Regions from separate parts of the Homo sapiens genome. Here regions 2 and 3 are each linked to region 1. A link means that fine-mapping ties the variant in region 1 to the expression of a gene that starts in the linked region. Tissue or cell type: whole blood. Region 1 holds a variant in brackets; each other region holds the start of a gene. All regions are shown on one strand. Distances are between the middles of the regions.

Region 1 (2,760 bases):
ATAAGGTTCACTTAACTTAAAAACAGCTTTTAAAACAACTTTTTATCTTCTGTCTTGCTATCATTGTTCCTACTTCCCTAGGAAGCCCTGGCTACCTTTCGCATTAGGACCAGTCTGGGTTTTAAGGCTCTGGGAAGCAGGGTTGGTTAGTAAAGACAGGAATGTTGGGGAGAGGTGAGTAGTTCCTTCCTCTTTCTCCTCTCCAATTTATGCTTTTAACTTATTTTCTACCTGGATAAACTTCTGGAACTTGGCTTTTAAATTTAACTTTTCTAGTTTTTAAGCAGTTTCCACCTTGCTTTGGTCTAATGCTTTTCTTTGAAATGCTAACAGAATTCCCAAGCTTTTTCCAGTTCTAGATATCTTTACTAGACCTTTGGGGGACTCTTATAATGGAGCTGCTTTTGAAAAGCACTTTAATTAGATAATGTATTTTGACTAAATCACGAGGATGCCCAGTGAGAGCTTCTAGCTGATCTCAGAGGACCAGAGTGACTGAGGGTAAAGTGTCTCACAGCCCATGCTGAATTTTCTGCATTTTAAACTGATACTGCAGTCATTGGAGAGAGAGCTCCTCATTTCTCGAATGAAAGATGAGATATATTCATCCTCATGTACCACATCTGTCTTAGTGTTTGCGTCTGGGGTGTGTTATCAAACAGAGCATGGTCTACATCCCACTGTGTCAACCAGAAGAGCCAAGTGTTATCTCAATTGGCCCAGTGTTTCTCCAGGCTGGGGACTGTTAAGGGCTCTAAGGGAATGTAGACAGAGTCTCCCTGTTATTCTGACTTCCTGCTTGATGAGCTTTCAGTTCCTGTTTTTGCTATTGTTTCCTAAATTTGACCTACATATTACATGGGTGTAGTGTGTTGAGGCTTTTCAAAGAAGGGTCTAGTGAGCTAAGTTTCATCTTCTGGTACTCATTGATCAAACTGACCTTTCTATTCTCATAAGCGTTTCTACCCAAAGTTGTGTGTGGAAGGAGTGTATAGCAGAGAGGAAATCCCTTTCAACAGAGTCAGCTGCTAACTGATTTCCTATAAGCACACTGGATTAAGGGCAGCCACAGTGGTTTCTACTGTATGTATGAACCGAATGGAGGAATGTTTTCAAAGATTGATTTGGTGTGGATTGCAATTGTAATGGAAGGCATAACTTGGGATCCCGGGCTGTAACTTGCTCTTTTGTTTCCCACCCC[C/G]CTGACATGTATGTGTGCTTTAATAAAGCTTTCTCACTTGTCAAACGTTTGTGTTTGTTAGTTCTATAAATGCTTTTGTCTCTGATGTCCTCACTGTTGCTTTTCCCCTGGCTTGAAGGATAAGAACCAAAGTGATAAATGCTCTTCCCTAACCATCCTATGCTGATTGAAGAAAATTCACCTTTCCCCGCATTGCTGCCTGATACCTTAAATGCCTGATACTTTCGCTGAGCTTGATCCCTCGTCCTTTGTATTTGGTATCTAAGGAGAACACTGAGAAATCATCTTTAAAGTGGCACCACTTTTCTATCTTGTAACAAAGGAACTCTTCCTTTAGCTTTGCAGACCCTCCTATACTGGAGGAAGGAGAGAGATGTTCATACAGGAGGTGAGGGGAGACATTCCCTGCTATAAGCACTTCTTTCTGGATCCTTCAATTTCTCTGGGAGGCGGGGACTTTTTCTTTTACTCCTCCTACCATTATGTAGTTTTGAGAGAGAAATAACACAGGTGCCAAGTAACCCAGCTCAGAAATAAGGCTCTTGATTTCTAGGTAGAACCCAAGCAATTCTTGACCTCTTGTGCAAAAGGGCATTAATATATATCAAATGCTTTTTATGTGCAAGGCTTCATATACTATTTCTTTAATTTCTCCAACCACTTTATGAAGTAGGAAATCTTCCCTTTTTACAGATGAGGAAACTCAAGCCTACTGTCACGTGACAGAGTTGGGCTTTGAATCAAAGTCTGACTCTACTGCACCATGTGGCCTCCTGTGAGAATGGTATGTGTGTTATGGGTGAAGGGTCAAAGGAAGACGTGACTCATCTCTTCTAAAATATCTTAAATAAGTTCAATTTACAAAAAGTAGGACAATCAGAATGCTTTGGATATTACCTAGCCAACTTAGTGACTGTACTGCTTGTGAGTGAGTGTGTGTGTATGTGAGAGAGAGAGAGACAGAGAAATAGGGGAGAGGAATAGGCAGGATAAGAGAGAATGGGGCAGTGGGGAGAAGTGGGGGAGAGGTGGGCAGAGAGAGAGGTACAATATATACAGGGGTCGGGCTAGCCCCTTTGGGTCTGGCTGTGGGTCATATTCTGCTGCTGTCTCTCCCCTACTTTAGGAGTTGGGATTTCTCAAATCCTCATCTTCAAAGGACTACAAAGGAGGTTACTGTAAAACTTTACCTAAAGAAAGCAAGACTGACTTGACTATTCAAAATGAAATGAAACAAAAGCTCCTCAGTTGCATATAAATGTTCCTTGAGTCAGGTCCAGGTGGAGCTCTGTTCAGGAGGTAGTAGGCCTCCGCTGTTTGGGCCTTTGACCTGCTAGTATGTCCTGGCTTGCCCCATTTGAAGTGTTAGTGATAAAGACAACGAAGGGCATTCATCTCGCCCAAGGTGCAGTCTTTGCCTTTGGAACCACAGAGCTAGTCTGACCAGAAATTTCCCACATGAACTCATTGTATCTGCCTCTGCCCATAACTTGCCTGCTGCCTCTCACAGTTCCCATATTTCCCTGGAGGGAAGAGGGAGAAGGGACCTTTTTGCTCCA
Region 2 (2,500 bases), 38 kb after region 1:
AGTCTCTGCCTTCAAAGAGCTGACGCTTTAGTTGAGAAATCAGACCTTAACGCACCTCCTGTGTTGTAACAACATAGACCAATATATTCACAATATATAACATTAGGTTTTAATCTCTCTGTAATCAGCTGGGTTTTGATGGGAAAAACCAGGTGGCTGGAATGTACAGTGCCTTTCTGTTTTAACATTTAAGAGGAGGTCACACTCACCAGGGATTTTTCCATTGCACTCTCTCTTTTTAAAAGTTTACAGCGAATAGCTGAACTTACATTTCACTATTATGTAAAAATACTTTCCCTCAACTTTCCAATTACTTAGGGGATAAAAAAGGAGAGGAATACTGGGGTTTTGCAAAGTCCTGCAGGTAAATTCTAAAGTCATTATTATCTTTAATACCTAGCTTAGAAATTCTTTCAACAAGTGGTGATTATTTTCCTCCATTCACATCTCCCCTTCCTAACCCATAAAACAATGTTCACAAATTGAAAAGCACACAAGTGAGAAAAAAATCAGCCTAATTCCACCAGAGGTAAATTTCACTGTTCCTTTCAGTTTTTGTCTAAGCACACGTGACTGTATGTATTGCTTTGCAATCCGCTTTCTTTTTGCAAATATATTTCTTGTGGGTATTTTCCCATGTATTTTCTTAGGTCGCTTTTAACCTCTTCATTCTTTTCCTTCTCTCTAGGGCACCAGGGGCCAGGGAGGCCCAATCTCAGAGCGCTGCGGGCTCTGCTGGTGATAGAAACAATATGGTGAAGTTATAAGGAGAGGGGAGGGGTGGGGGGCGGGAAAGATTCCTTAGGATAGAAAAAAAACAATGAAGAAAGCTCCACTTGAAGACCTATGAAATTTCCGACACTAGAACCTTTGTATATAGTTTTCGGTAACCTTCGGCAGGGGGCGCTCTGAAATTGTTGCCACTTTCCGGACAGCCTCCCATACTTTACCCTCTACAAAATTGTACAGTGTTTCCGGCCCTTCTCAGTTGTGGACGCTCGTAAGTTTTCGGCAGTTTCCGGGGAGACTCGGGGACTCCGCGTCTCGCTCTCTGTGTTCCAATCGCCCGGTGCGGTGGTGCAGGGTCTCGGGCTAGTCATGGCGTCCCCGTCTCGGAGACTGCAGACTAAACCAGTCATTACTTGTTTCAAGAGCGTTCTGCTAATCTACACTTTTATTTTCTGGGTGAGAGACGAAGGCGCCTGGGGCCGGCAGGGGATCCCGGGCTTTTAGTTGTGGGGGGTGTGACCCTGAGCGGCGGGAGCTCAGGTCGGGAACGGTGTGGGGTTTGGGCGGCCATCGCGCCTGGGACCCCGACGCCGGCGACCAGTGACTGGGCCCCGAACAAAGAGCTCAGGCATCTCGCCGGCGCTGGGGTCGGAGTGCGGGACGAAGGCAGCCGAGAGGCTGAGCTGGGACCCAGACGTACCAGCGTTCGAGTTCGATACGGGAGGCGAGGTGGGGCCTTAAGCCCCCAGAGCACGCAGACGGTGACCCTGGACCTTTGCAAAGGCAAGCAAGGCTTGCCCGGCCCCTTTGAGGGCTCACTTGCATAATAGTGTCTTTCTTTTCACTGCTTCGTAAGAGAGGAGTGTTTCGCAGGTAAGTATGGTATGCCTCCACTCCCGCCAGTCTATCCTTGGGCTTGCTTTTGTGTACCAGTCCTTTGTACCCTGTGCCCATCCCTACCTGGAGAGGACGGGGGAAGTTTCTGGAACTCATAAAATCACGTTTTTTTTTTCCCCTTCAAGGTTTTCTTCCTAAGGTTGGAGTAAGATAGTTAAGGAAGTTTTGATCCCTAGGGCAAATATGCCATGGGCTTGTGTTTACACACAAAAAGATGAATTTTAAGAATTTTGATAAGATACCTGGTCCACAGCCTGCTCTTGTGTGCAGATCCCCCCCTAACCCCTTCTACTCTTCCCCCTTGTCTGCCGTATCCCAGCATATTACACCTATTGTGCCTTAAATACCTCATGCGTTGTGATTTGAAGATGCTGCTGTACACAGTGCGTAACTGTTTGTATTCTCTGAATTCCCACATAGATCACTGGCGTTATCCTTCTTGCAGTTGGCATTTGGGGCAAGGTGAGCCTGGAGAATTACTTTTCTCTTTTAAATGAGAAGGCCACCAATGTCCCCTTCGTGCTCATTGCTACTGGTACCGTCATTATTCTTTTGGGCACCTTTGGTTGTTTTGCTACCTGCCGAGCTTCTGCATGGATGCTAAAACTGGTGAGTCCTTGTTTTCATTAGAATTGATTCTTGGTTTTAGAAAAGTTTTGTATGTTATAGAATTCCTTTGTTGGAACTGGCCATGGCCCTTTACAATTTTTCCTGTTCCTTATGGAAACTTATCAAGTAACAGTTCAGCTGCCAGTTTCCACTTTCAAAATAGACATGTTGTTATTTTCCCTGCCCTTTTCAATGAAAACATGATGAACTAATTGAGAAGACGACCATTATTTTTTCTTTGACTCCCTTTGCAGTTGTGCTATAT
Region 3 (2,500 bases), 58 kb before region 1:
GGAAAAGCAAAAGAGTAAAATGTCATAGATGCCATAGAAAGTTTCAAGGACGAGGAAATGGTTAACGGTGTTAAATGTAGGGGAGAAGTCAAGCAAAATAAGGACCAAAAATACCTTACTTATTTATGGATTTATTGACACTGAGGGTCATTGTTTGTGTATCTCATTGAGAAGTTTCAGTGGGGGAAGGAAGCCAGACTGCTGAGAGCTAAGAAATGAATGAGAAGTAAGGGAATAAAAATTGCAATTTCACCTGTGAAGTACATTTTCAATACATTTGCCCATAAAGAGGACCTGAAGAGGGACCTCCTGTGTAGGGAGGTTCTTTTTTTAAGATGGTAGATACTTGAGCATGTTTAATTGCTGATGTGAAATGAGGGGGAGAGGGATGGGAGAGGCAGGGAGAGGAATCTGCAATTACTGGGTAGGTATAAACATTTTCAAGTCTATTGATACATATTGCTCACGTGCTTTCTAAAAGGGTTTTTAACCAACATATGCTGCTATCAGCAATTAAGACAGCTTGTTTGGTGGCTACTTTGTCATCATTAAGTGTTATTAAAAAATAAAAAATATCTTTGCCAAAGAATCTCATTATTGTTCTAATTTGCTTTTCTTTGATTACTAGTGAGTTGGATATTTTAACCAGTTGTGTCCTTGAGTGTGTATGTATGAATTTAGTCTACGCTTTTGCCCAAAACGTTTCTATTTTAGACAGACATTTATTTGCCATAAAAGGCCACAAGTCAAAGGATCAGAATGGTATTATATTTTATTTACTCAAATTAGATAGTTCATACTCTTTTATCTTCTTAGAAGTGTGAGACAATTTGACAACTTTTGACTCAGCTGAACGAAAGAGACAGGTGATTTCACCGTCTAAGAGAGTGACCAACAGATGGAAGTAAGTGGGTGAGGAGGCACGTCTAGTGTTAGACCCCTATCCTCAGTCCCCAGGCTCCCATTCCTAACCTGGAAGGACATTCCTCTTGTGTCTCAAGGCTTTGGGTCCCAGAGCTCCCTTTTGGGCTGAGTGGCCCCCTGCTAAGGAGCCCGGGGCGCTGTGCGGCCCCTTTAAGAGTCCAGCTCCTCCCCGCTCCAGGGAAAGTTGCAGCTTTTTCCGCCTCCCGGGAGGGTGAGAAGGGCCGGCTGCCGGAGCTGGGTTGCGATCTTCCCGGAGCCGGAGACCCTCCCTTGAAACCGGCACTGGGACTTCTCGATCTCTGGAGGCACCTGTTGCAAGTGACAGGTAGGTCAACAGCCAGCGGCCGGCCCCTCGCCCTCGGTCCGGTGCTCCTTCTGGACCCCCAGCTCCTTTTCGCTGCTGAAGCGCCCCCACCCCCATCTCGGGGTCGTGCGTCTTCCCTACCCGCTCTCTGGTCCCCCAATTTTTCCTTCTCCCTAGCTGACCGCGTCTCCCCTCTCCCCGTCCGCCTCTCCCGACCGCATCCCCAGGCTTGGACTCCCGTCTGCTTGGGCGGTCCCTCCCGGCCACTTTTCTTTCTCCAGGGCTTCTTCTGGCCCCTTCCCTGACCCACCCAGCACTAATGCGGTCTGTGCCCCTCTGGGAGCCGCCTCCCCTCTCCTCTTCGGCTCCCCTCGCGGGGAGTGCCCGGGCTTTTTCCCGCCAGCCCGAGCTGGTGCCCCTCCCGAGAGCTGGCCCTGGGGGCGGGGGCGGGGCCGAGCTCCTAGCGGGAACTGCGCCCTCCAAGGCGTCCAGTCACCTTTTCGTGGGTTCCTCTCACAGCGCTCGGCCGTCGAGCGGGGTCGCTAACCCGCACTCTCTTCGGACCTACGACATCGCGGCTTCTCTGGCGTTGGCCAGTCAGCCACAGGTAAAGGCTGGAGGCTGGTTGGCTGGAGTCCTGCCTCAGTGGGCTCCCTCTGCGCTTGGGGCTGGGGACCTGGCTGTGTGCTGTGGAGCTGCTTTATATTGCCGCTCTTCAAGCAGGCTGTGAGAGATCTGGTACTGGAGGAGGGTCCCCGAGATCTCAGAAGGGGCACAGAATGCTTCTGTCTCCTGTGTTGGTTTGTAATGGGGCAGAAAAAGGTGTTCCTCCAACCCTTAACATTGAATGAGGTGGGATTTGGGGTGGTGAAATCATTTGGTTAGAATTCTGGTGGCTTGAAAAGTGGTGACTTTCTAATCAAGCTTTTCTTCCCCCAGTACCCTGCTTCTTCAGGATTAGAGGACGTAAAATTCCAGAGTACTGTGCTTGGCAGGGTTGACCCTAGACCTTGTATATTTGTGGCAAAAATGAGTCTTCTGTACATCCTGGACCTCCTATATTTAACTGGCTTATTTTCTGCTCTTTAAGCTCCCCACCCCCACCTCTCATAAATCTATTAATATTGAGGTATTAATGACTTAAGACTTTTGTCGCTGTGGGAACAATGTTTAATGCAGAGACGTGGCCTTGATGAAGTTTTCTGCGTTTTTGGTTGTTTGGTTTTTAGCACCCTAGTAGAAAAGCACCACCAACTTGGCTTGTGAGGCCCT

The links. PIP is the estimated chance that this variant, and not a neighbour inherited with it, causes the effect.
Region 2: it holds the start of TSPAN6, and the variant in region 1 is fine-mapped to the expression of TSPAN6 in whole blood (TOPMed, PIP above 0.99). The same link has a PIP of 0.9 or more in T cells, blood mononuclear cells, esophagus muscle, gastroesophageal junction, lung and pituitary.
Region 3: it holds the start of SYTL4, and the variant in region 1 is fine-mapped to the expression of SYTL4 in whole blood (TOPMed, PIP above 0.99). The same link has a PIP of 0.9 or more in blood mononuclear cells, caudate, esophagus muscle, gastroesophageal junction, nucleus accumbens and putamen.

The regions. Positions count from the first base shown.
Region 1 is chrX:100,672,977-100,675,736 of GRCh38, reverse strand. SRPX2 (sushi repeat containing protein X-linked 2) reads right to left here. Exons shown (of 11, transcript NM_014467.3): 11 at 1-2,760. SYTL4 (synaptotagmin like 4) reads left to right here. Exons shown (of 20, transcript NM_001370165.1): 20 at 1-1,246. Among named protein-coding and RNA genes, the nearest start is that of SRPX2, 30 kb to the right of the region's middle. The variant C/G (reference allele first, on the strand shown) is at 1,202.
Region 2 is chrX:100,635,293-100,637,792 of GRCh38, reverse strand. It overlaps TSPAN6 (tetraspanin 6), which reads left to right and starts at 987. Exons shown (of 8, transcript NM_003270.4): 1 at 987-1,185; 2 at 2,047-2,235. The coding sequence starts at 1,099. RefSeq lists enhancers at 792-1,407, 1,408-2,023.
Region 3 is chrX:100,730,753-100,733,252 of GRCh38, reverse strand. SYTL4 (synaptotagmin like 4) reads left to right here and starts at 1,132. Exons shown (of 20, transcript NM_001370165.1): 1 at 1,132-1,249; 2 at 1,748-1,835.